2 separate regions of the Homo sapiens genome follow, and region 2 is linked to region 1. Evidence: fine-mapped expression QTL. Tissue or cell type: whole blood. Region 1 holds a variant in brackets; the other region holds the start of a gene. All regions are shown on one strand. Distances are between the middles of the regions.

The links. PIP is the estimated chance that this variant, and not a neighbour inherited with it, causes the effect.
Region 2: it holds the start of ATIC, and the variant in region 1 is fine-mapped to the expression of ATIC in whole blood (TOPMed, PIP above 0.99).

What each region holds. Positions count from the first base shown.
Region 1 is chr2:215,334,380-215,347,226 of GRCh38, reverse strand. It overlaps ATIC (5-aminoimidazole-4-carboxamide ribonucleotide formyltransferase/IMP cyclohydrolase), which reads right to left. Exons shown (of 16, transcript NM_004044.7): 10 at 12,223-12,308; 11 at 11,103-11,192; 12 at 8,320-8,448; 13 at 2,356-2,448; 14 at 286-468. Among named protein-coding and RNA genes, the nearest start is that of ATIC, 29 kb to the right of the region's middle. The variant C/T (reference allele first, on the strand shown) is at 4,725.
Region 2 is chr2:215,306,812-215,319,658 of GRCh38, reverse strand. ATIC (5-aminoimidazole-4-carboxamide ribonucleotide formyltransferase/IMP cyclohydrolase) reads right to left here and starts at 7,600. Exons shown (of 16, transcript NM_004044.7): 1 at 7,498-7,600; 2 at 7,035-7,161; 3 at 1,426-1,502. The coding sequence starts at 7,516. It overlaps LOC124907975 (a long non-coding RNA gene), which reads left to right and starts at 7,687. Exons shown (of 2, transcript XR_007088075.1): 1 at 7,687-8,980. RefSeq lists silencers at 7,256-7,625, 7,636-7,715 and an enhancer at 7,246-7,896.

The sequences.
Region 1 (12,847 bases):
TTATAATCAACAGGGGAAGTACAAATATACAAACCTACACCAAGGCTGCAATTTAAAAAGACAGAGGACTGTGGTTTCAGAAAGGGGTCAAAAACAATGAAGAAAGTTACATGAGACAGAAGAACATGAGAAATGTGTAAGAAGTTTCAATGATCAATTTTAGACAACATAGAATTTCAATGAAAGTATCTTTTTCTCTGTGTGGTGATGAAGTTAAAATCTGTTACACATAAAGGGTTGAACTGAATATTAACACAGCCGAGAACCCAATGCCAAGTCTTTCACCTCGCCAATGGTTCCAGTCACATATTGATCGATGGCATTGGAGATTTCTGCTCTCTTCACTCCTGTTTTAAACTTCATCGAAAGCACTTGTGGATGGTGTCTAAGCCACCAATAGTTTGCCTTATCTCCTGCAAGGCGAGTGCAGTGTATACGAGACTGCTGTCCTGCTCCAATGCCGATAACCTGAGGAACACAGACATTAAAGTGAACACCTCTTCCAAAGACACTTTCTTCTCAAAAGGATCTTTTGTGCACATTCTCCAAAACCTATTTATTAGTTTTGTGGAAGAACATATCAGGCCAAAATAAGAGAAATATAAATAATTTTTAAGTCATTAAAAGGGGTGGAGTAAGAGGTTTGTTTATAACTACTATTTATACCTCTTCAGTGATATGTGACATATGACTATTAATAATCTACAATTCAATAAAATTGATGGTTTGAGGTCAAAAAAAAAAAAAAGTTAAAATAAATGACCAATGCTGGGTGCACTGGCTCATGCCTGTAATCCCAGCACTTTGTGAGGTTAGGACAGAAGGATTGCTTGAGCTCAGGAGACCAGCCTGGGCAAGATGGCAACATCTCATCTCTACAAAAAATAAGAATTAAAAAATAGCTAGGGGTAGTGGCGCACACCTGCAGTCCCAGCTACTCAGGAGGCTGAAGTGGTAGGACCGCTTGAGGCCAGGAGTCGAAGGCTACAATGAGCTATGATCATGTCACTGTACTCTGGCCTGGGCAACAGAGCAAGACCCTGTCTCTATAAAAAATAAATAAATAAATAAATAAAACTAATGACCACAAAAATAACTATGGTTACTTGAAAGTCTTTTGTTTGCCCCAGTGTATAAATTACAGTTAAAATATCAACTCTCAGAAATTGAGATAAGGATCTGACATGGGTAGCTAAAAGTAGAAACAATTCCGCCAGGTACAAATGTTCTTCCTTCTTTCCTCTATTTCTATGGGTTGAATTCTAAGCAACAAGGACTTAAATGCACAGGTGTGTTTTCTGGTTTTAGTTCCTATAATGAACAGCCCCTAAGCTGTCTGCCCAACAGTCCATCTCTTTCTGAGCACAGCTGCTGGCAACCCTGCCCACAGCTACAAGAGAATAAAAGAGACCACAAATACCTGGGCAGCCGCCTCCTCCTCAACATCAGGAATGAAGCACTCATTCTACATGGACTTACAGAACTTCTTAGAACCTGACACCAGTAGACACAATCTCCCAGGAGTTTGTTACTACAGAGACTGGCAATCTGGGGTCTTCCAGGCCATAGGCTAATTCATATCCACCCACCTCCCTGTCACTTGTGGGCCAAATAATTTAACAAATGCCAAGAGATAAGCTCAGGACACCAGGTGAAGAAAAGGCTAGCAGAGACCTCAGAGATGAACCAGCTCCATCTTGTATTCTGAGGCTCGGGACACTAGGAAAGAAGTGTAATATCTTGCTTAACGTCACACAGTGAGAAATGTTTGGTATTTAATTGTGGCAGCGGTCACATACTGTGAAATTTGTGAAAACTGGTCAAACTGTACTTTAAAAAGGTGAATTCTACTGTATACAAATTATGCCTCAATGAACCTAACTTTTTAAAGATGAAGTTAACTCCTAGTCTAGCAGTCTTTCTACTCAGCAGATTCTTGATAAGACAACATAAGAAATAATGTGAAAATACCCTGCAGGCTGCAAAAATATAGGCTGGTGGGTGGCAGTACCGTAACTTACCTCCTCTTCCCTGGAAATAATACCAATGGGGGAAAAGGAAAGGAAATAATCCAGTTTTGTAACAGCTATTAGAGTCTCACTAATCCAAAATGTGCCAACCTATTCAAGGCAAGAAGCAGCACAACTACTTTGAGTACCTGGTTCCAAAGATATTTTCTGATCATCATTAGTTTTAACAGCCCACCAGGGTACTGAGGAAACACTGACAAACACAAAAGACAAACATTTGGCAAATATTCCCTTTCAAGCTGTCCAATATCTAAGGCAGACGGATGTTTAAATATCATTTCGTAAAACAACAGTCCCCCGAAGGCGAGTCCAACAGCCCACTTACCTGCCCGTTCTTGGCGTAGCACACAGAGTTAGACTGAGTGTACTTGACAGCAATGGTGGCTACGATGAGGTCTCGGAGGGCAGACTCTGGCAACTGAAACACATACACAATGGTAAATTGCATGGGGCCTTTTAAACTCATTTAACTTTAAGCTTCTTTTTTTAAATATTATTTTTTGTGGTTTTTTTGAGTCAGAGTCTCACTCTGTCTCCCAGGCACAATGGGACAATCTCCAACGGCACAATCTCGGCTCACTGTAACCTCCACCTCCCGGGTGCAAGAGATTCTCACACTTCAATTACAGGCGCATGCACCACCATGCCTGGCTAATTTTTGTATTTTTAGTAGAGATGGGGTTTCACCATGTTGGCCAGGCTGGTCTCGAACTCCTGAGCTCAAGTCATCTACGTGCCTCAGCCTCCCAGAGTGCCAGGATTACAACAGGTGTGAGCCACCACACCTGGCCAACTTTAAGTTTCTTAGTTCTATTTAATGTAAAAGACCTACAACATAGTTATACCACTCAAATGACAGAGGGAAATTAACTGTTCTCCTACACACTACCATGATTTACTTAAATATTTAACACATTTGGGGTGGAACTTAGCACAATGCATCCATAGACACAAACTCATGTTATTTTGTAGCAATTGTGGATTAAGCCTTTTTATATCACATGAGGTAAGAACTACCATATCCATTCCAAAACTGACAAACAATATTTTCTTGACCAGAGTACTTTTAAATATCTGGAGACATGGTAAAATTTACGTTCAGAACCAATGCGGAGAATTGTTTCATAGACATCACAAATCGTTATGATGCACACAGACAGCCAAGACTTTGGAAAAATCAAATTACGATCATTTTCTCTTTTGTTTAGAATAACTTAAGTTGAAACTGTTCAAAAACCATTAGGAATTACCAGTCCAAATAGAACAACAAGAATAACGCCCAAAAATATCACTATCTTTAGTATCAGGCATGAATACAAATGGAAAAGAAGGATGATAGTCCACGTCTGTATGCTAAATGGACAGAGGATATTTGCTACAGCCAACAGATAAGTTGATAAATTTGACTTCAGTAAAATTAAGAACTTTTCCTCTGTAAAAGATTCCTCATTAAAGAGGATGAAAAGACAAGCTACGAACTAGGAGAAAATTATTAACAAACCTCATATCCAACAACAAACTAGCACCTAAAACATAAAAAAACTTTAAAAACTCTGTAACAGGACAGGCGCAGTGGCACATGCCTGTAATCCTAGCACTTTGGGAGGCCAAGGCGGGTGGACCACCTGAGGTCAGAAGTTCCAGGCCAGCCTGACCAACATGGTGAACCCCATCTCTACTAAAAATATAAAAATTTGCCAGGTGTGGTGGCGCATTCCTGTAATCCCAGCTACTTGGGAAGCTGAGACAGGAGAACCACTTGAACCCGGGTGGTGGAGGCTGCAGTGAGACAAGATCATGCCACTGCACTCCAGTCTAGGTGACAGAGCGAGACTTCATCTCAAAACAAAACAAAAAAACTCAGTAACAATCAAAAATTTAATTAGAAAATGGGCAAAAGACAGACATTTTCACCAAAAAGGATACACATGTAGCAAATAAGTACACAAAAAAATGTTCAACATCATGAGCTATTATGCAAATTAAAATCAGTGAGAGATTGCTACACAACTATCCCATGTCTTTAAAAAAAAAAAAAAAGTAGCAATACCAAAAGCTAGTAAGGATGCAGAGACATTGGATCACTCATCCATTGCTGGTGGGAATACAAAATGGTACAAGCCACTCTGGAAAACAATTCAGCAGTTTCTTAGTAAACTAAACATGCAACTACCATACCACAAAGCAGTTAACAACCCTGGGCATTTATCAAAGAGAAATAAAAACTTACGTTTAGGCTGGGCACAGTGGCTCATGCCTGTAATCCCAGGCGGGTAGATCACCTGAGTCAGGAGTTCAAGACCAGCCTGACCAACATGGTGAAACCCCGTCTCTACTGAAAATACAAAGATTAGCCAGGTGTGGTGCCGCATGCCTGTAATCCCAGCTCCCTGGGAGGCTGAGGCAGGAGAATCGCTTGAACCCGGGAGGCGGAGATTGCAGTGAGCCAAGACCGAGCCATTGCACTCCAGCCTGGACAACAGAGTTGGACCCTGTTTCCCCAAAAGACAAAAACCTTATGCTCACACAAACACACAAAAACTGTACATGAATGCACGATGAATGAAAATTATAGAAAGGAAAAACAGATTTGTGGTTGCCCAAGGGTAAGGAGAGGGTGGAAGCCATATCAAGTGAGCCCGGCTACAGAAGAACATGAGGGATCACTGCAGTGTTGGAAATGCCCTGTGTCTT[C/T]AACTGTTATCAATGTCAATGGCATGGTTGTGGAACTGTACTGTAGTGTGACAAATGCTAGCATTAGGAGAAATAGGGTAACGGTTACATGGGAACTCTTACAACTGTATATGAATCTACAACTTTTATCTCAAAATTAAAAAGTTTAATTTAAAAAAAGCTATTAGGATTTCTTAAGAATTTATTACTCTAAGGTATTATTAATGTTATATATCTTTTATCTTTATCTGCTATTTGAGTCATCAACTATAAATCTGATTCCTCTGGTTCCCAGAAAACTTAGTAGCAAAAGCCAGCTTCATAGATGTCTAGACCTTCAAAGATAATCTTGGTGATACGGTTTGGCTGTGTCCCCACCTAAATCTCACCCTGAATTATAATAATCCCCATGTGTCAACAGGCAGGACTAGGTGGAGGTAACTGGATCATGGGGGCAGTTTCCCCCATGTAGTTCTCATGACAATGAATGAGTCTCATGAGATCTGACAGTAAGCGTCTGGCATTTCTCTCGCTTGCACTCATTCCCTCTCCTGCCGCCCTCTGAAGAGGTGCCTTCTGCCATGATTATAAGATTCCTGAGGCCTCCCCAACCGTGTGGAACTGTGAGTCAATTAAACCTCTTTTCTTTATAAATTGCCCAGTCTCAGGAATTTCTTCATAGCAGCGTGATAAAAACTAATACACTTGGCATCCTGGGTTGGGATCAAGGCATACGAGAAATGCCAGTGGACTGGGAGTAAGGGAATCCAGTCTTAGAAACATGCTACAAATAGTTAACACAATTAAAGCACTATTCAAGAAAAATGGGAGAAGAGGAAATAATTCAAACATGTTCAGTATTAATAAACATTCCATCCACCTGTCTGGCTCTCTCAGGACTGAAATGGTTCCAGACCTAATAATTCTGAGGCTGGAATGTTAACAAAAATCCACTTAAAAAGACGGGTAAAACAGAAAGGAGAACAAAGCTATCATTCTCTCATCCTTAAGTTTCCAAATTTCTACTAAGAATTCATATGAAGCAAGGAAAGAGTTTAGATAAACGATTAAGATCATACCTACCACTCTTATAAAAAATATCCAGAGGCACAAAACCTATCAAGATCACTAAATTATTAATGAATCCAATATCTACAAACCTTAGAAAAAAGACTCTCAGTAGCTAGGCACAATTCTCAACATGGTACCATGGAATCTAGGTCAATATCCATTCAGTATTTTTCAAAGTACATGAACCAACCAGAGTGGATTCCAAAGGGCTGAAAGATATTTCTATGTATAATGCCTACATGTTTCTTTACTTCAGGACACCATTAATTGTCAAAGATAGAAATGAAAGAATATCCATTAAATCAAACAAAAAAGATATGTTAATCGTCGTATGCTTATCAACAGACAGAACTCTCTGGATAAAGATTTTAAGGCTTATTTCCAGCAATTCTACTGAAAAGGCCTCAGGATTCAGACCTGGGAGCAAGCTGCAGCCCCTCATCTCCTTCTGTTACAGCAAATAGCTTAAGAGACCAATCCTCTTTTAGTAACAAACAGAAATGCTGGGCAGAGCGGACAGACAGCAAGTGCTAACAGACAAAGATCCCAGAGAAAATGGAAGCAGTAAGAAATGGGCCTGACAGTCTATGCTTTTCTCCTCAAGGCATTTTCCAAGTTGCATGCAATAAACTAAAGGTAAATTGGCTGAGCACAACTTTTGGCAGTCTTAGAGGACTAAGGGACAAAAGCCGAGTTCAGCGTACAGCAGTAGATACCTAGGGATTCAGGAGCAGGAATGAACCATGAACAGACCAGTCCTCACAAAGACTGAAGGCTAAATTCCTATTTAGCCTTTAGGAAGCTCAACAATTCCTGACAGAATGAAGATACCTCCTACACCTTATCTGCCCAAAAGAAGGACAAGTCAACTCTGGAGAGAAAAATAACACCATCCAGCCCTCAAAATATCGCTACAGTTTTTTCATACCCAATGCCTAGCACTCAATAAAAAATTCCAGGCTATCAGCCAGACAGACCAGAAAGCAATGGAATGATTCCTGCAAAGTACTGAACAACAAGCACAGCCTACTTTAGACCTAGGACAAACATCCTTCAAACTGAAGGCCCAATTAAGATACTCCAAAAAATAAATGTCAGCTTGTCCATTCTTTATTGTGTAACTCCGGTCAAATTTCTTAATTGTCCTTTATGGTACAATTTTGTGATCTTCACAATTGACACGATGGTAGTCACCCCCATAGAGTGACCTAAGTGTTAAATGAGATAATATATCCAAAACACAAAAATCACCATTATTATCCTAGGAACGTGTCCTTACTACAAGGTAACAAAGAGCACAAGCCCAAAAACTTGTCTATATAAAAACATTGATCATAGCACTGAAAATGTAAGCAATCTAAATATCCATCAGAAGATCCACGTTGCAGTGAGCTATGATCGCACCACTGCACTCCAGCCTGGGCAACAGAGCAAGCTTCAAAGGAATAAAAACATTCAAACAGAGCGAGCTTCAAAGGGATAAAAACATTCAAAAGTCTCTTAAAAAAAATAATAAAGGCTGGGCATGGTGGCTCACGCCTGTAACCCCAGCACTTTGGGAGGCTGAGGTGGGCAGATCACGAGGTTAGGAGATCGAGACCATCCTGGCTAACACAGTGAAACACCGTCTCTACTAAAAATACAAAAAAAATTAGCCAGGCGTTGTGGCGGGCGCCTGTAGTCCCAGCTACTTGGGAGGCTGAAGCAGGAGAATGGCGTGAACCCGGGAGGCGGAGCTTGCAGTGACCCGAGATCGCACCACTGCACTCCAGCCTGGGTGACAGAGCAAGACTCTGTCTCAGAAAAAATAAAATAAAAAAATAAATCAATCAATCAGGGTAAAAATAAGAACAATAAATATCCATCGTAGTACATCTACACATGGACTGACTGCCACATGGACTTTCAGATAAAGATATGAATATGCATTTATTTTCGAGATAGGATCTTGTTCTGTCACCCAGAGAGGAGTGCAGTGGCACAAACACGGCTCACTGCAGCCTTGATCTCCCAGACTCATGCAATCCTCTCACCTCAGCCTCTCGAGTAGCTGGACCTACAGGCGCAGCTACCACGCCAGGCTAATTTTTGTACTTTTTCTAGAGACAAGGTTTCACTACATGGTCAGGCTGGTCTTAAACTCCTGACCTCAAGAGAGCTGCCCCTTGGCCTACCAAAGTGTTGGGATTACAAATGTCAGCTACTGCACCCAGCATCTATATGTATTGATATAAAAACACATTTGTAGCCTAGCACATGGAAAAAAGCCAAGTTACAGGAGTCAGATTATGGAAGACATGATCCCATTTATACACAATTAAAGCTACTTATCTCTAGTGTGTACATATGCACAGAAGCTTCTAACATGGCCTTTGATTCATTTCTTAAACTCCAAAGCTTATGTGACAACTCAAAGATAAGCTAGCTAGCCGTGTGCATACAGACCAGTTCCAAATCCAGACCTTAATAAATGTAAAGCTCATTAAGTATTGAAAACAGACCAATGGAAGTTACTAGCAGTCAGTTCAGATACTTCCCAACTTACATCTTTATTTTTGGTAACAACATTGCTAAATAATGACTTGTCGACGACACCATTATTTCTCTTCTGGCTTAAATGAAGACCAAAGAGAGTTCGAACTTCATTTTCATCTGGTTTGTAAGATTGGTCCATCTAAAATACAAATTTTAAAAGTTAAAGTTAATCTCTCCACTTCCCTCAAATTTTTCATTTAATTTATATACAAAAGATTTCATTGTAAGTAAAGTTATATGCATGTTTCTAATTTTTTACAGTTTTCTAATTTTCTAATTTTTCTCACACAACAAATGATGTGTTAAATCATTCTGGTATGATACAATTCAACATTCTGGTATGATACAACAGCCAGGCGCTAATATTTTTCTCCAAAGTCTTTTATAGATTTTACTACCCAATAGTATTTTATAGATTTTACAACCTATATACAACATGTTAAAAAACAATGATTCCAGTGAGTGTATTTTTGGTTAAGTTACTACCTATATGGTTCTTTTGGAAGGTCAGCAGATAAAACAGATGTGCTAATTAAATAAGCAATGGCACAAAAATTAAATTCTAATTTTCCTTTCTAAAAATCTGTTACAAAATACCCAGCTAACCCAGGAATTGAAAGCTAAAAGTGAGAAAACAGGATTTGTAATCTGTGTCTTTGCTATTTGGAAGGAATTTGTATCATTTACTGCCATCTTCCTCTCCCAAATTTTGAGCCGAAAGAACATTAAGGTGTGTGGAACAATACGTGTAACACTACTCTCTCCCTGGATATTTTTTTAAACTTGACACTATTTCTTCTTTATGCTTTGGATGATCTTTGATTTAGAAAGCCCTGACATATAATTTATAAGCAAGACCCCGTAAATATTAGTTCTGTTTAATCTACATTTTCTTGAATTCTAAAATGTTCCTTTGTATTATGCACTATAAAATTTCTAAAATTGATATGCTCTCCTATTAACTGATGCTAGGAGAAACTTATCATTAGTCAGGTAGAGGGATAAGTTGTCTCATGCTTATAATCATGCGTCCAATGTGCAAACTAAGCCAAATTCTCAAATAAGTAAAATACCAATGAAGTCCTGATATTCCTTTGACACTCTCCAACTATCAGGTGTTAAAGAGATCAAGAAAATGACTCAGGTTTTGGAAAATATTTTCCATGATGCTACAAGAAAATGCTAATGGTTGTTAAGTACATAACACTCTTAACAACAACAACAAAAAAAAAACTTGATTAAGAAACTGGGGGCCAGGCGCGGTGGCTCACGCCTGTAATCCCAACACTTTGGGAGGCCGAGGCGGGCAGATCCCTTGAGGTCAGGAGTTTGAGACCAGCCTGGCCAACATGGTGAAACCCTGTCTCTACTAAAAATACAAAACTCAGCCAGGCCTGGTAGTACATGCCTGTAGTCCCAGGTACTTGGGAGGGTGAGGCAGGAAAATCGCTTGAACTCAGGAGGCAGAGGTTGCAGTGAGCCAAGATCACACCACTGCACTCTAGCCTGGGCAACAGACTGTCAAGTGGCTAAAAAAAAATAAGTATTAACTTTAATGTGGTATTCTCTTCTTTCCTTAAATAGCTGACATGGAATCTATGGTGAACTATAAAATTATTGGTATCTTACAATCAAAAGAATATACTTAATAACTTTCCTTGTAAGGAATTAGGATTCCACAGAGTTCTGATATCAATACTATGAAAAGTAGCATTAGGAATTTTTACTTTAAATTGAAATAACTCTTTGCTTTATCAATGCATAATCTTAGACCATGAGCTACTTTTCCCAATACAGAAGAGCTCATAAAAATCAGTTAAAAAAAAAAAAAAAGCCAACAACAACTTAGTAGAAAAATCATCAAAGAATATGGAAAGACAGTTCATAGAAAGGAATAAAAACATTCAAACATGAAAAGATGCTCATACCACACACAATGTTAAAACTACATTGAGATGCCATTTTCTAACTGCAGAGACTTTTTAAAAGTATAAAACCACAATGCTGACAAAAGTGTTGGGAAACAGGCATCCTTATATATTTCAGTTAGGACAATGAATTTGCCTACAACATCTAAAAGGGGCAGTATCAATTAAGATTACCAATATACATAGAGCTTGTTATTAAGCCTTAATTTCACTCTCAGGACTTTTCTAGGTTATTCACTGCAGGGGTATTTGTAGTAGCTAAAGATTGGTGACTGTCTAGGTAAGTTAAAATACACAGATACAGGACAAACTTCCAAGAAGGTGAAGCAGGGTGCACTTGTGTCAATAGGAAAATAGAAAAAGAAATGCACATGCAAATATTTGCTGAATACATAGACTATTTCAGGAAAGATAAGCAAGAAATTTAAAATAGTTATCTTTTCAAAAGGTAACAGAAGGATGGAGAGACTTTCCATTAAATATTGTTACTATTATTAGTATTTTAGAGACATGGTCTTACTACACTGCCAAGGCTGGAGTGCAGTCGTTATTCACAGGCATCATAGTACCACAATACAGCCTCCAATTCTTGGCCTCAAGCCATCCTCCCACATCAGCCTCTCAAGTGGCTGAAATTATAGGCATGAGCCATCACAACCAGCAAAAAGTTAAAATTGAGGGTAAGAAAGCTACTCTCATCTCAAAACCCCAAGTTAATAGTATTTTTTTAAATGCAGGATTGGGGAAAATAAACTATAATAAGGATAAACTAGAAGGGTATGAGTATAAAGGAAAGAGTAAACAAGGGAGAAAGAGACACAGAATAAAAGAGCAAATTACCGCTTCAAACATGAATTGCACTCACCTGAAGGACACAATAGTTTCCATTTTTCTTTTTGGAAAGTATTGTCAAGGCTTCTTCTTCATATCCTGGGGCAATTATACCATCAGATACCTGCAAAAATATTAAATTTTAATTTCTATTTTTAAAAATCAGAGAACACCTCTTAAAAAAATCTAGCAGCAATTATCAGTCTTAAATAATGTGGCAGCATATTCTGGTTTCTGCCTCCAACAAACAATGCTAACGCTATACTTGAAAAGAGAAATCTATTAGAATACAGCTTTCTGTATAGCAGATCCTAACTTTCTGTCCTCTCCAAGTTTTTGTTCGTTTCAGTTTAAACTAAGAAAATATGACTGATTTGCTCTTAACACATGTACCTCAGGAGGAAATATTTCTTCAGGGAGTGTTTTGAATGAGCAAGAGCACATTCTAGTCCTGACTCTCCTAGTACATGGTTAAATGACCTCTTCCGGCAAGGCGTTTTCCTTAACAGCAAGACCAGATTAAATCAGAGATTTGACATGACGAAAGATACAAATGTCACAGCCCTCCTGTAACCTGTAACCCAGGGATGGCAGTGGCCATGGAAAGAATCCTAAAGCAACAAAATAGTGCCAAGCCACATGCTCCTTCAGCCTTCACCTCTGCTTATTTTTTTCCCCTTTCTGAGCTATTTAATCTTTTTCTCTTTTCTTCCTGTCTTCCTACTACCAACAGTACCCCCACCTGTCTGGAATACCTGTTTGGTATTCAACTGATGGGGTAAGTTTATTAATGTAGTTTCTGTTTTTTACCCACTATGCAGTAAGATGGATTATATCGCATCACCACCTAAAATTACAACTTCTGCTCTTCAGAAACAGTAACTTTGGCATGAAGACAACAAAGAATTTAAAATAAATATATAAGTAAAAAACATCATAACAGCCAAATATCCATCTGAAACAATAATTCACTACATTTCAAAATTAACAATTTAAGATTAATGTTCTATTTAAAATATGAACATTAAATGATAAACTTAGCTAATTAAAAGATATTATAAATATAAATATTATAGGTTATGGTTTCAATTAACATTATGAACAAATAAAGCTTTATTCAACACACAGATTAAGATACATGAATGTCCACTAACTTCTCTGGAAATAATTTTTGCAGTTGGTACATCACAAACATCGGACAATGCAACAAAATCACCAAATGAAGACATCCTATCAGCCCCTGTAAATAAAATTAAAATGAGGTATTTATCACAAAGTATCCTGATACAGAAAAAGTAATAAAATTCTCCACTGTCATATAAAATTCATTACTCTAAAGCTAATCTTACTGTTTACATAAGATTTTAACAGATCAATAAGTCATTTAACTGAAGTAACCAGTAAGAAAGTATTCTTTAATTTTACCCTCTAGAGTGACACTCAGAAAACTTTTTCTGTGAAGGACCAATTTATATATACTATATTCACAAAAACAGGGTGGCAGGCTGGATTCAGCTGAAGTTGCTGACCACTGCTGTAGATGATAAACTATGGTAATAGTTTCTCAAGAACTTTCAGAAATACTAAAGGGATATTCATGGGTTATTAAATTCAACAAGTAAATGTCTCTGATAAAACATGACTCTAACCAAATGTAGTAAAGTTAGAAGAGCCATAAATCACGCCTGTAATCCCAGCCCTCTGGGAGGCTGAGGCAGGTGAATCACTTGAGGTCAGGAGCTCAAGACCAGCCTGGCCAACATGGTGAAACCATGTCTC
Region 2 (12,847 bases), 28 kb after region 1:
TAAAAAAGTTAAACAAAGTCATTAGCTTCAAAAAACAAGTCAGATTAAGGAATGTCTTTCAACATAGTGTCTTCAATCAAATTAAATCCCATTGATTAAAAAAAAAATTTATTTTTTTGAGATGGTCTCACTCTATCGCCCAGGCTGGATTGTAGTGGCGTAATCACAACTCACTATAGCCCTGACCTCCAGGGCTCAAGTGATCCTCCTACCTCAGCCTCCCAAGTAGCTGGGACTACAGGAATGCATCACCACACCCAGCTGGTCTTTTCAATTTTTTAAAGAGAAGGGGGGTGTTGCCATCTTGCCCAGGGTGATCTTAAACTCCTGGGCTCAAGCGGTTCTCCTGTCTCAGCTCTCCAAGTGCTGGGACTACAGGCAAGAGCCACCATGCCCAGCATAATATTCTTAATTAAAGAATATCAAACATGTAGTTGGGGAGTTATCAAACAAAAAAATTAGGATTAACAGATATATCTGGCTGGCCACAGTGGCTCATGTCTGTAATACCAGCACTTTGGGAGGCTAAGGTGGGGGATCGCTTGAGCCCAGGTGTTCGAGACCAGCCTGGGCAACAAGGTGAGACCCCGTCTCTATAAAAAATACAAAAATTAGCTGGGTGTGGTGGCACATGCCTATAGTCCCAGCTACTTGGGAGGCTGAGGTGGGAGAACTGCTTGAGCCTGGGAAGCAGACAGAGGCTGCAGCGAGCCATGATCGCACCACTGCACTCCAGCCTGGGCAAGAGTATAATCCTGTCTCAAAAAAAAAAAAGAGAGATATATTTAAAAATCTTTTTCTTCAGTTCTTGATCCCAGTTTCTTGAGCAATAAAATGTAAAAAAGGTAAAAGGAATTTTACAAAACTGTTGCTAGTTCCAGAACAGTCTATGCGTTTCTGTAAGTCAATGGCTTGTCTGATGATCTGTAGCCATTCAGCTTTATTCACCAAATTGTACCACAACTGACAAACTAGGAGGATACCAGTTTCTTGCCGTTTCGGTTTATATACAATTCATTCTTAGGTGAACGAACAAATGTAAAGCACTTTGAAAAAAAAAATTCCTTTGCAAGTCAGTTACGCTGTGATGCTTTCTTCTAAGTTTGAACTATTTTAAAAGTATTTTCATACGATGAAATCTAAATATCTTCAGCAACTTGAGCAGGAAACACCAGACTCTAAATTAGGTATCAGGTCAGGACTAATAGCAAGCAGAGGAAAACAATCTGAATTCATCAAGTAGTAAGACAAGCTGGATTTTAAACCAGTTCTAACGTATTATGAAATCTGGCAGCAACTTCATAACATTAACTTTATATGTAAATTTCTCTTGAGCCTTTTTCTTCCTTTATTTTAGGACGCTATCAACTAAAATATTCCTGGAAACCACTGACTGTTTTTACATTAAAGATACCAACCACTTACCAGCATGGACTGCAGGATGCAAAGTTTTCACACGTCCCCCCAACATTTCAGGAAATCCCGTCAACTCAGAGACATCTCTGAAAAACAGATAAACAGAATGGTACTACTGGTGTGGCTGAATTGTAATTTTCACTATTCAAAGCATCTACTGTTTTCATTTCAAGAGATTTTGAGCCTGAATTCAACGTGAAAATTCTGATTTTTTAAAGTATTTCACTATATTTTATTTCTTAAGTAAAATTCTATTTACTTCCGAAAAAAAGTTTATTTAATTTATTTCCTAACTGTTGTGTATGTTCAGGGATAATTGGTAACTACTACAGCACTGGTTTTATAATTTTCAGAGCATTTAGAAACTGAATCATAAGCCATACTCATTAAATATTACTAAGACATACAACTGAGAATTTGGCAGTATGTAACAAAAAGCATTAAAAATATCCTTGGCCGGGCACGGTGGCTCATGGCTGTAAACCCAGCACTTTGGAAGGCTGAGGCAGGTGGATCACCTGAGGAGGGGAGTTTGAGACCAGCCTGGCCAACATGATGAAACCCCAGCTCTACTAAAAAAATACAAAAAATTAGCCGAGCGTGATGGCGGGCACCTGTAATCCCAGCTACTGGGGAGGCTGAGGCAGGAGAATCACTTGAACCCAAGAGTTGGAGGTCGCAGTGAGCCGAGATCATGCCACTGCACTCCAGCCTGGGCGACAGAGCAAGACTCCATCTCAAAAAACAACAACAACAACACATGAAGATGGCATATCAAGTGAGTGAAGACATAAAAGACTGTTTAATAAAGTGGTGTTGCTATTGGAATAACGGGTTAAACCCAAACAAAAATATATTCCTTATGAATCAAAGGTTTAGCATTTAAAAAATCATGCATGTAGCAAAATTAAATATGTGAGGAATGCTTTCCAAGTTTTAAACAAAAGATTGAGAGTTCTGATTACAGAAATGTTAAATAAAAAGTTTTACATGGGAAAAAAAAGTAAACTAGAAAAAATAATCACACAATGTGACAAAGGGTCAAGTGAAGGACAGTAAATATTAATCCATATCACAAAGCAGACCCCTAGAAAGTCGTAACCACGAACACTCTGGCAGACTTTATAAGTTGTAATGGTGTGTAAAAATGCCCACAATATATAAGAAAAAATAAAGCAGGGGCCAGGTGGGGTGGCTCACACCTGTAATCCCAGCACTTTGGGAGGCCAAGGCGAATGGATCACCTGAGGTAAGGGAGTTCCAGACCAGCCTGACCAACATGGTGAAACCCCGCCTCTACTAAAAATACAAAATTAGCCAGGCATGGTGGGGCATGCCTATAATCCCAGCTACTTGGGAGGCTGAGGCAGGAGAATCGCTTGAACCCGGGAGGCGGAGGTTGCAGTGAGCCAAGATTGTGCCACTGCATTTCAACCTGGGCAACAACAGCAAAACTCCGTCTCAAAAAATAAATAAATACATAAAAATAAATAAAGCAGGAAGCAAAACTGCATCTATCTTCTGTGTAAGCTATGAAATAAAGTACATGCTTATAAAAATGCTTGAAGAAAAATATACTAGCATGTTAAGAATTACAATCCATTTTTACTACCTTCTTTATAGTTGTCCATATTTTCGAATTTTCTACAATCAACATATATAGTTTTTGAGATGGGATCTCACTATGTTGCCCAGCCTGGAGTACAGTGATTATTCACAGGCAAGATTACAGTCCATGGCAGCCTAGAACTCCTGGGCTTATTAAGTAATCCTCCAAGTAGCTGAGACTATAATAAACACTTTAAAGCAGCAAGTTCTGCCAGTAAGATACGGAATTTCCTGGGTAGATTCTCCTGTTAAGGGGAGCCATTTGCAAATGACTGGTGTTTGACCAATGACACACACAGTTCCAACATCCACAAACTGGTGACATAAGTGTTTTCAAATTCAAAATTTCTTTTCCTGGGGTTCAGGAAATAAAATCCATTTCCTCCAAATGAAGACAGTCACTTAAAACTTAGAGAAGGCGGATTTATTTCTAGAATTAAACATTTGGGGTAATTAAAAAGCTTGCTACTCCTTTGAACTGAAGAATTTATACATAATGGCTGTAGTCTCGGGAAATAATTCTATGTATGCTCACTGCTGTATACTCACTAATTAAAATCCATCAGTTTACCTCATGACAAGGTAATGGTTAACTTCCTGGGATAAAATTATTGCAGATAACAACACCCAAAAATATGCTCAGAAGCAGCCTCAGAACCAAGATCTTTTTTTTTTTTTTTGAGACAGTGTTTCTCTCTGTCATCCAGGCTGGAGTGTAGTGGTGGAATCTCGGCTCACTGCAACCTCCACCTCCTGGGTTCAAGCAATTCTCCTGCCTCAGCCTCCTGAGTAGCTGGGATTACAGGTGCACGCCACCACACCCGGCTGATTCTTTTTTGTATTTTTAGCAGAGATGGAGTTGCACCATGTTGGCCAGGCTGGGCTCAAACTCCTGACCTCAGATGATCCAGCAGCCTCAGCCTCCCAAAGTGCTGGGATTACAGGGGTGAGCCACTGCGCCCAGCCAGAACCAAGACCTTGTCCAGGCATGGTGGATCACACTTGTAATCCCAGCACTTTGGGAGGCCAAGGCAGGCAAAATTGCTTAAGCCCTAGAGTTCAAGACCAGACAGACAACATGGTGAAACCATCTCTATGAAAAATACAAAAATTAGTTGGGCATGCTGGTGTGCAGCTGTAGTCCCAGATACTCAGGAGGCTGAGGTGGAAGGATTGCCTCAGCCTGGGAGATCGAGGCTGCAATTAGCCATGATTGTGCCACTGCACTCCAGCCTGGGTGACAGAGTAAAACCCTCTAAAAAAATATATATATATAGCTTTCTCCTGCCCTCTTGCCTCTCACCCTTCATTCTTCCCTGAAGTCACAGAAATGAGAATTTCTCTTCCCCAGGGCAGTTTACAGAAACTAAAACTCTTTTTCCCCAAAGCCAGTCATAAGATTTAAACTTATGATTCTAACTTTCCACTGGCTTTCTGTCTAGGAGCTGGACGTAAAGAAATCCTCTCATCTCCTTGCCCATTAGTAGGTCAGGAGATCCTTAGGGGGTGGAGAAAGAATTTTAGAGAAGCCAAGAAGAATCTGGACAGACAGGCTTTCCTGGCTTTCTCCACCTCAGTCTACTAGCATACACCATATCCTTGCTGTCCAATCATACTTCCACCTTTCTGTCCATTCTTTGTTGAACCTAAACATAAAAATGGATGGTTTTTCCTCTGTCTTTGGGTCTTCATTCTGAAGGCTCTCATGTCATGTAAAACTTTGTTAAATAAATTTGTTATGCTTTTCTCTTATTATAACCTGTCTTCTCTTATAAAAATATTGGCCGTGACGTTTACGATGGAGAGCAAAGGATCACACCTTTCCACCCCTACAAAATCTTGGCCTCGGGTGCGGTGGCTCACACCTGTAATCCCAGCAGGCCAAGGCGGGCGATCACTTGAGGTCAGGAGTTCGAGATCAGCCTGGCCAACATGGTGAAACTCTGTCTCTACCAAAAATACAAAAAAATTAGCCAGGCGTGGTGGCGGGCGCCTGTAATCCTAGCTACTTGGGAGGCTGAGGCAGGAGAATCGTTTGAACCTGGGAGGCAGAGGTTGCAGTGAGCTGAGACAGTGCCATTGCACTCCAGCCTGAGCAACAAGAGTGAAACTCTATCTCAGAGAAAAAAAAAAAAAATCTTGGCCTCTTAACTAGCTGTGTAATCTCGAGCGAGTTACTTAACTACGTTGTGCTTAATTTCCTCACCTATAAAATGAGGATAACACTACCTAAACTAAAAAGTTGTTATAAGGACTATAAGAGTTTATATATGTAAAATACCACTGCAACTGAATAAAATACCACTGCAACTGAATGTGGCCTTTGTTGAAGAAAAAACAATTGCTCCAAGTTGTTTACATTTCATTCAGTGAACTTTACTGTGCTGGGGTCTAAATAAATCACTCATGGTGAACTTCTTATCCTTTCATAGAAGAGAAACACATTTACATTTCCAGTTTTTAAAGAAGATATGACCATAATGAAGATAAGTGAGGAGTGGGTATAGGTACAGAAACAAGACTAATCAGTTGATAAGTACCTAAAGTGGGTGACAGATATAGGACCCAAGGGATCATTATACTTTTCTACTTTTGATTGTGTCTGAAATGTTTCCATAATACAAAGTTTGGTGGGGAAAAAAAAGAGACTACAGATGAGGATTTTGCTTTACGAAGGTTCCATTACCATAGGAGGACCCAACTTGGCCCAATGGAAAGCACGCAGGTCTGGACTTTGAATTCTCATTCGGTTGCTGATGAGCAAAGAGCCAACTTGCCTGCCACGATTCTCACAGGTTTCCCATGAAAACCACAGAGACAAGACGCAAAAAGACATCCGAAAATATACAGTTATGTATTTGTTAATAAAGTAAGGCATTCTTACCATCTGAACTTGTTAAACTTAGGGAAGCTGTGTACTGCTCACATAGCTGGGAACTGCACAAAGAAAAGGTAATAACCTACCTCTACATGGATCTAGAAACCAAGAAGCAAATTTTCCACATGGCAACAAAAAGCAGACAGATATCCTTCATCTCTTTCATTCTAAAATATGTTTCAGGGGTGGTCATCTCGTTCCTCCCAACTCTCACTGCCGTTTATTAAATAGCTATCCTATAGTTTTTTTCATTTTTCTACCTTTCAGTAGACTTCCTCCCTCTCCTCCCAGAATGCCACTCCTTGACATCAGCAATGGCATCCTGGTTAATCATTTCTAAGTCCCTTCTTTCCATGGCCTAGTCAGCTAATGAAGGGCTTGTGAACGTGGGAATGAATGATTTGCACCTTCATATGGTTACCAGAGATTCTAAGGGAAGGCAGGTAAATTGGAATCTTCATGATGTCGAGTTTTATTAAATCACCAGTCAAAGTAACTGAAGTTTTCCTTGCATAACAAGTGGCCCACCTAAGTTAATCTGTTTAAGGAAGGGGCTAAGACTAGTGTCCTAAAATCAGGAACAGCACGGGTTCCAATCCTACTTTTCCCTTACTCAACTGTTTAAACTTGTGCAGAAGATGCTAAATCTGTCCAGTGTGTTGTCCAGGGTCTTTCTCTGTCACCCAGGATGGAGTGCAGTAGTGCCATCTCGGCTCACCACAACCTCCGCCTCCTAGGTTCAAGCGATTCTCCTGCCTCAGCCTTCCCAGTAGCTGGGATTACAGGCGTGTGCCACCATACCGGCTAATTTTTGTATTTTTAGTAGAGACGGGTTTCACCATGTTGGCCAGGCTGGTCTCGAACTCTTGACCGTAAGTGATCAGCCCACCTCGGCCTCCCAAAGTGCTGGGATTACATGCGTGAGCCACCTAGCCCAGCCGTCCAGGGTCTTAAAAGTTGCTAAATCTCTCTGAGCCTCACTTTTTTTCCCCATAAAGTGGGGAAGTATTACACCAACCTCACAGCGCTACTGGGAGGAGTAAATAAGGCGTTTTGCTGCTGGTGCCTGGAATACAATACTTCCTGGTTAATGTGATCACACTCCTTTCTGATGGAACTAGCTATGCCTTACCTGACTGCCAGACCAGCATCCCTGAGAGCTTTTGCAGTCCCTCCGGAAGCGACCAGATTCAAACCAAGAGCGGTCAGGTTTCTTGCAAATTCCACAAGGCCGGTTTTGTCAGAGACACTAAATAAGGCTGAAAGAGAAGACATTTTTTCTCATGATTCGCAGCACATTGCACTGTGTTCTGCAAGGCCTTGGGAGGGTCTGGGGGAGGAGATTCTCGAATCGCAAGGCCAGCACCTGGACCCTGCGTTCGCAGGCCTGGTCCGGGCCTCCCCAGGTCTTACACCCGCGAGCTGCTCTAAGGCGGGCCCCACGCAGGCTGCGGCCCGGCCGGGGAGCGGGGACGCTGGCTTTCAATCCCGCAGCGCCGCCCCTGCAGTGCCGGGTCCCGCCGGCCGCCGCCAAGGCGGGAGCGTGGGGGGCCGCAGGCGAGGACGCAGACCGCGCCGCTCCGCTAGGGCCTCACCGAGCTGGCCGGGAGCCATGGCTGCAGGCACTGGGTTCAGGGCGAGCGGGAGGCAGCAGCGGCGGCACCACGTGCGCAGGTAGGAGGGCTGCCGGGATGTGGCGGCTCAGGAAGCGAGGGGGCGGAGCTGTTTCCGGGCTTATCACGTGGCCCGCCGGCCCTGCCCGGCGCCCTGCTCTGCTCAGTTTCAGATGCAAGATCCGCGCCCCGGGGCTGAAGGGAACGGCGGGATGGGGTGGGGCTCTGCCTGGCGCGCCTGGGCGGAGTGCTTGGGCTGGAAGGGATCCTGCCTGCGATCCCGAAGTCCAGGCGTGGGAGCCAGCGATCTGCCCACGACCCCAAAGTGAGGCCACTCCACGGCCTCTGGGGCAAATGCCTGTTATTCTAGGCAGCCGGTCCCCAGAAGCTGGAAAGTACGTAAAAGTGCCAGAAGCTCCCATGCTGAAAACTAAACAAAAGGAATAGTTCATATAGCGGCAAAGCTGGAAAGTATCTGGACAGTTATCTACCATCCTCCCTTTTTGTTTGTTGTTTTTTTGTTTTTCTGGGTTTTTTTGTTTTTTTTGTTTTTTTTTTTTTTTTTTGAGATGGAGTTTCGCTTTTGTTGCCCAGGCTGGAGTGCAATGGCGCGATCTCGGCTATGTCACGTGCAACCTGCAACCTCCACATCCCGGGTTCAAGAGTTTATCCTGCCTCAGCCTCCCGAGTAGCTGGAATTATAGGCAGGCGCCACGATGCCCGGCTAATTTTTGTATTTTTAGTAGACATGGGGTTTCGCCATGTTGGCCAAGCTGGTCTCAAACTCCTGACCTCAGGTGATCCGCCTGCCTCGGCTTCCCAAAGTGCTGGGATTACAGGGGTGAGCCACCATGCCCAACTTGTTTTTTGTTTGTTTGCTTGCTTGCTTGTTTGCTTGTTTGTTTTGAGACAGGGTCTCGCTCTGTCTCCCAGACTGGAGAGCAGTGGCACCATCTCAGCTCACTGCAACCTCTGCCTCCCAGGTTCAAGAAATTCTCCTGCCTCTGCCTCCACACCCGTCTAATTTTTTGTTGTTGTTGTACTTTTTTTTTTTTTTTTTTGTATATTTAGTAGAGATGGGGTTTCACGGTGTTGGCCAGGCCGGTCTTCAACTCCTGACCTCAAATGATCTGTCCACCTCAGCCTCCCAAAGTGCTGGGATTACAGGTGTGAGCCACCGTGCCCGGCCCCATCCTCCTTTTTAATAGGCTTAAAAAATAAAACCAAGGACCAATGATTTAAGTGAGGGACTCCAGAGGCCACAGATGACAGTCAAAACGAAGTGAAATTGACATTCGTTGTTGATTTTCACGTCATAAAATTATAATTTAAATATTAATTTATAATACTATTTTATACAATTTAGTCAGTATTGTAAAAGTGCCTAAAAACTACTTAAAGATGGTGTCTTCTTGCAAACCTGTAAATATTCCTGGATGAGAGGAATGATGACAGTCAAAAGAAGGTAAGAGAAGACCTTTCTTAATTCATTAAAAACAGGGAAAGCAAAATTGAACACATTTGTTTCTTTCTAAAAATGACACCTTTGCCACAAAATAAATACATATTGTGGTCTATGAGTCTTTTTTGTGTTATTAGAATTATATTCCAAAGTAATAGCATTGTTTATCTTTTAGTCTGAGCTCACAGCTGTAAAAATGAGTCTATTTTCTCATTATCTGCATGCTATTTATTTTTGTTTTTCCTCTTCCTTTCTCTAATTCTTCCCATCTCTTTACTCCCCAAAATAAATACCTATTGACTAGAATCAATTTTTTTTTTTTTTTTTGAGACAGAGTCTCGCTCTGTCACCCACACTCTCGCTCTGTCACCCACACTGGAGTGCAGTAGCGCGATCTCGGCTCACTGCAACCTCTGCCTCCCAGGTTCAAGCGATTCTCCTGCCTCAGCCTCCCGAGTATCTGGCACTACAGGCGCGTGCCACCATGCCTGGCTAATTTTTGTATTTTTAGTAGAGATGGGGTTTCGCCATGTTGGCCACGCTGGTCTCGAACTCCTGACCTCAGGTGATCCACCTGCCTTGGCCTCCCAAAGGGCTGGGATTGCAGGCGTGAGCCACCGCGTCCAGCCTGGAATCAATTTTTTGACCTCTAAATATGTTAGCCCTTTGCTCTGAACACTTCTCACATTCCTACGAGGAATATATTAAGATTATCGCATGTCTTCAGTGTGTTTGCCAAATTTGAATTTAAAAAGGATATTTCCTTGGCCAGTCACCATCAGGTTTTTACAGGAAATCGAAAGCAAGGAAAGGAGAAAACAATGCTGACATTTATTGATAAGGGGAAATAAACAGTTGCTTCGGCATTATGCATTTGTCTGTCATGTGAATTACAAATATTTATTCGATTCAATACATTTTTATTGAGCCTTTTCTGCTTGGATGGCAGAAACTCAGTGTCAGAAGACAGATAAATATCACCTAAGCACTGTCCTCAAGGAGCTCATGATGGAATGAAAATGTAGACACATGAAGTATAACTAAAAAATATTAATAGAGGCCGGGTGCGGTGGCTCACACTTGTAATCCCAGCACTTTGGGAGGTGGAGGCGGGCGGATCACGAGGTCAGGAGATCATGACCATCCTGGCTAACACAGTGAAACCCTGTCTGTACTAAAAATACAAAAAATTAGCCGGGCGTGGTGGTGGGCGCCTGTGGTCCCAGCTACTCGGGAGGCTGAGGCAGGAGAATGGTGTGAACCCGGGAGGCGGAGCTTGCGGTGACCGAGATTGCGCCACTGCACTCCAACCTGGGCGACAGAGCGAGACTCTGTGTCTCAAAAAATTAAATAAATAGGCTGGGCGCGGTGGCTCACGCCTGTAATCCCAGCACTTTGGGAGGCCAAGGCGGGCAGATCACGAGGTCAAGAGATCGAGACCATCCTGGTTAACACAATGAAACCCCATCTCTACTAAAAATACAAAAAATTAGCCAGGTGAGGTGGCGGGCGCCTGTAGTCCCAGCTATTTGGGAGGCTGAGGCAGGAGAATGGCATGAACCCCGGGGGGCGGAGCCTGCAGTAAGCCGAGATCGGGCCACTGCACTCCAGTCTGGGCGACAGCGAGACTCCATCTCAAAAAAAAAAAAAAAAGAAGAAAAAATTAAATAAATAAATAATAATAATAGAGAAAACACGGCATTAAACTGATTTTGTAGAGCCTCTTTCATTACAGACTCTTCCATTTACAGATGTTTACTCTGGGGCCTGGTGTAGTGTCTCATGCCTGTAATCCCAGTGCTTTGGGAGGCAGAGGTAGGAGAATCACTTGAGGCCAGGAGTTTGAGACCCACCTGGGCAACATAGTGCATGCCTGCAGTCCTAACTACTTGAGAGGCTGAGGTGGGAGTTCGAGGTTACAGTGAGCTAAGGTTGCACGGCTGCATTTCGGCCTGGGCTACAGAGCAAGACCCTGTCTCTTAAATAAAATAAAATAAAAAAATAACAGGCTAGGAGTGGTGGCTCACGTCTGTAATCCCAGCACTTGGGCAAGCTGAAGCAGGTGGATCACTTGAGGTTAGGAGTTTGAGACCAGCCTGGCCAACAGGTGAAACCCCGTCTCTACTAAAAATACAAAAAGTAAGTTGGGTACAGTGGCTCACGTCTGTAATCCTAACACTTTGGGAGGTCAAGGCGGGTGGATTGCCTGAGCTCAGGAGTTCAAGACCAGCCTAGACAACATAGTGAAACACCGTCTCTACTAAAAAAATACAAAAAATTAGCCAGGCATGGTGGCGGTGCCTGTAATCCCAGCTACTCGAAAGGCTGAGGTGGGAGAATCGCTTGAACCAGGAGGTAGAGGTTGCAGTGAGCCAAGATAGTGCCACTGCACTCAAGCCTGCACTATAGAGCGAGACTCTGTCTCAAAAAATAAAAATAAAGATATTTACTCTGATTAATTCTCCCATAGTTTTAGCATCCCGACTTGATAGGACTTAATATGTTAATGACAAAAAGAGTAAATGAATTTTTTACTAGCTTTGTGATCCTGGCCAAGTCACTCCATCTTTTGGGGACCTTTGTTGCTTTACCTGTAATATGGACATAATATTTTTTCTGCAGTCCTCATCATATTTTAAGAAGCGAATTAAGTACAGGTAGTCTACTGAAAGTACAAACTGCAAAGAGACTAAGAAGAGTAAAATAGAGGTGTAATCTTCTTGGTTCCCTTGGTCTGGCTAATCAGGTATCTTTCTGGGCACCAAGGTATGTCTTCAAAGATCTAGTCACCAGCAAGCTAGTGTCTTAGAAAAGGGAGATGTTCTCATAAAGATGAGAATGCATCTTTTACCAATGGTTTATCGCAGGATTATTGTTTCAGAAAGACAGAAAGGGCGTGTATACACTATAATGATTACATTTTCATTTCTTCTTACTTCACATACCTCCAAAGAGAAGCTTGAAGACCCTAAAATCATAGTAATATACCTTAAAATATTTAATGTACATGAATTGTTTCAGTTCTTTGAAGGTGTTATAATCTGATTTTGCCCCTATGTTGTTTGTTTCTTGTGTAAATTCATCACTTTTTTTTTTTTTTTTTTTGAGACGGAGTCTCGCTCTCACTCTGTCACCCAGGCTGGAGTGCAGTGAAGCAATCTTGGCTCACTGCAAGCTCCGCCTCCTGGGTTCACGCCATTCTCCTGCCTCAGCCTCCCAAGTAGCTGGGACTACAGGCACCCGCCACCACATCCGGCTAATTTTTTTTGTATTTTTAGTAGAGACAGGGTTTCACCATGTTAGCCAGGATGGTCTTGATCTCCTGACCTTGTGATTCGCACATTTCGGCCTCCCAAAGTGCTGGGATTACAGGTGTGAGTCACCGCGCCTGGCCAAGCTCATCACTTTCTTTGAAAAACCTCCATCTCCCTTCCAAGTCTTGGATCTCCTATTGGACTCTAACGATTAATAAAGCTGCATCATCTTGGGCTGACTTGCTCCAAGGGTTTGTCCACTCAAGTGGATGTAGTTTATCATATAAAGGGATTCCCAGGAGCTTGGTATAAAATTCCTCTCTACTGTAGTTCAGAACATTAAGCTAATTTATGACCTAGTATGAAATTCAAACATTTTTCTTGAAAGTCCTGGAGATGTTTGGAGATATAAAGCTGACAATAATACAAAGAATGAATTGGAATAGTAGGAAGTAGAGAAACTGGTTAGGAAGGTTTTGCATCCACTCACACATAAGAAGGTGGAAAAGAGGTTATCTATGTGAGACGATTCAAAATAGGTAAAATTAGCAGCATGCAGGGATCAGTGACATATAGGAAATATTAGACACAAAAAACTAGGGATGATTCCATCATT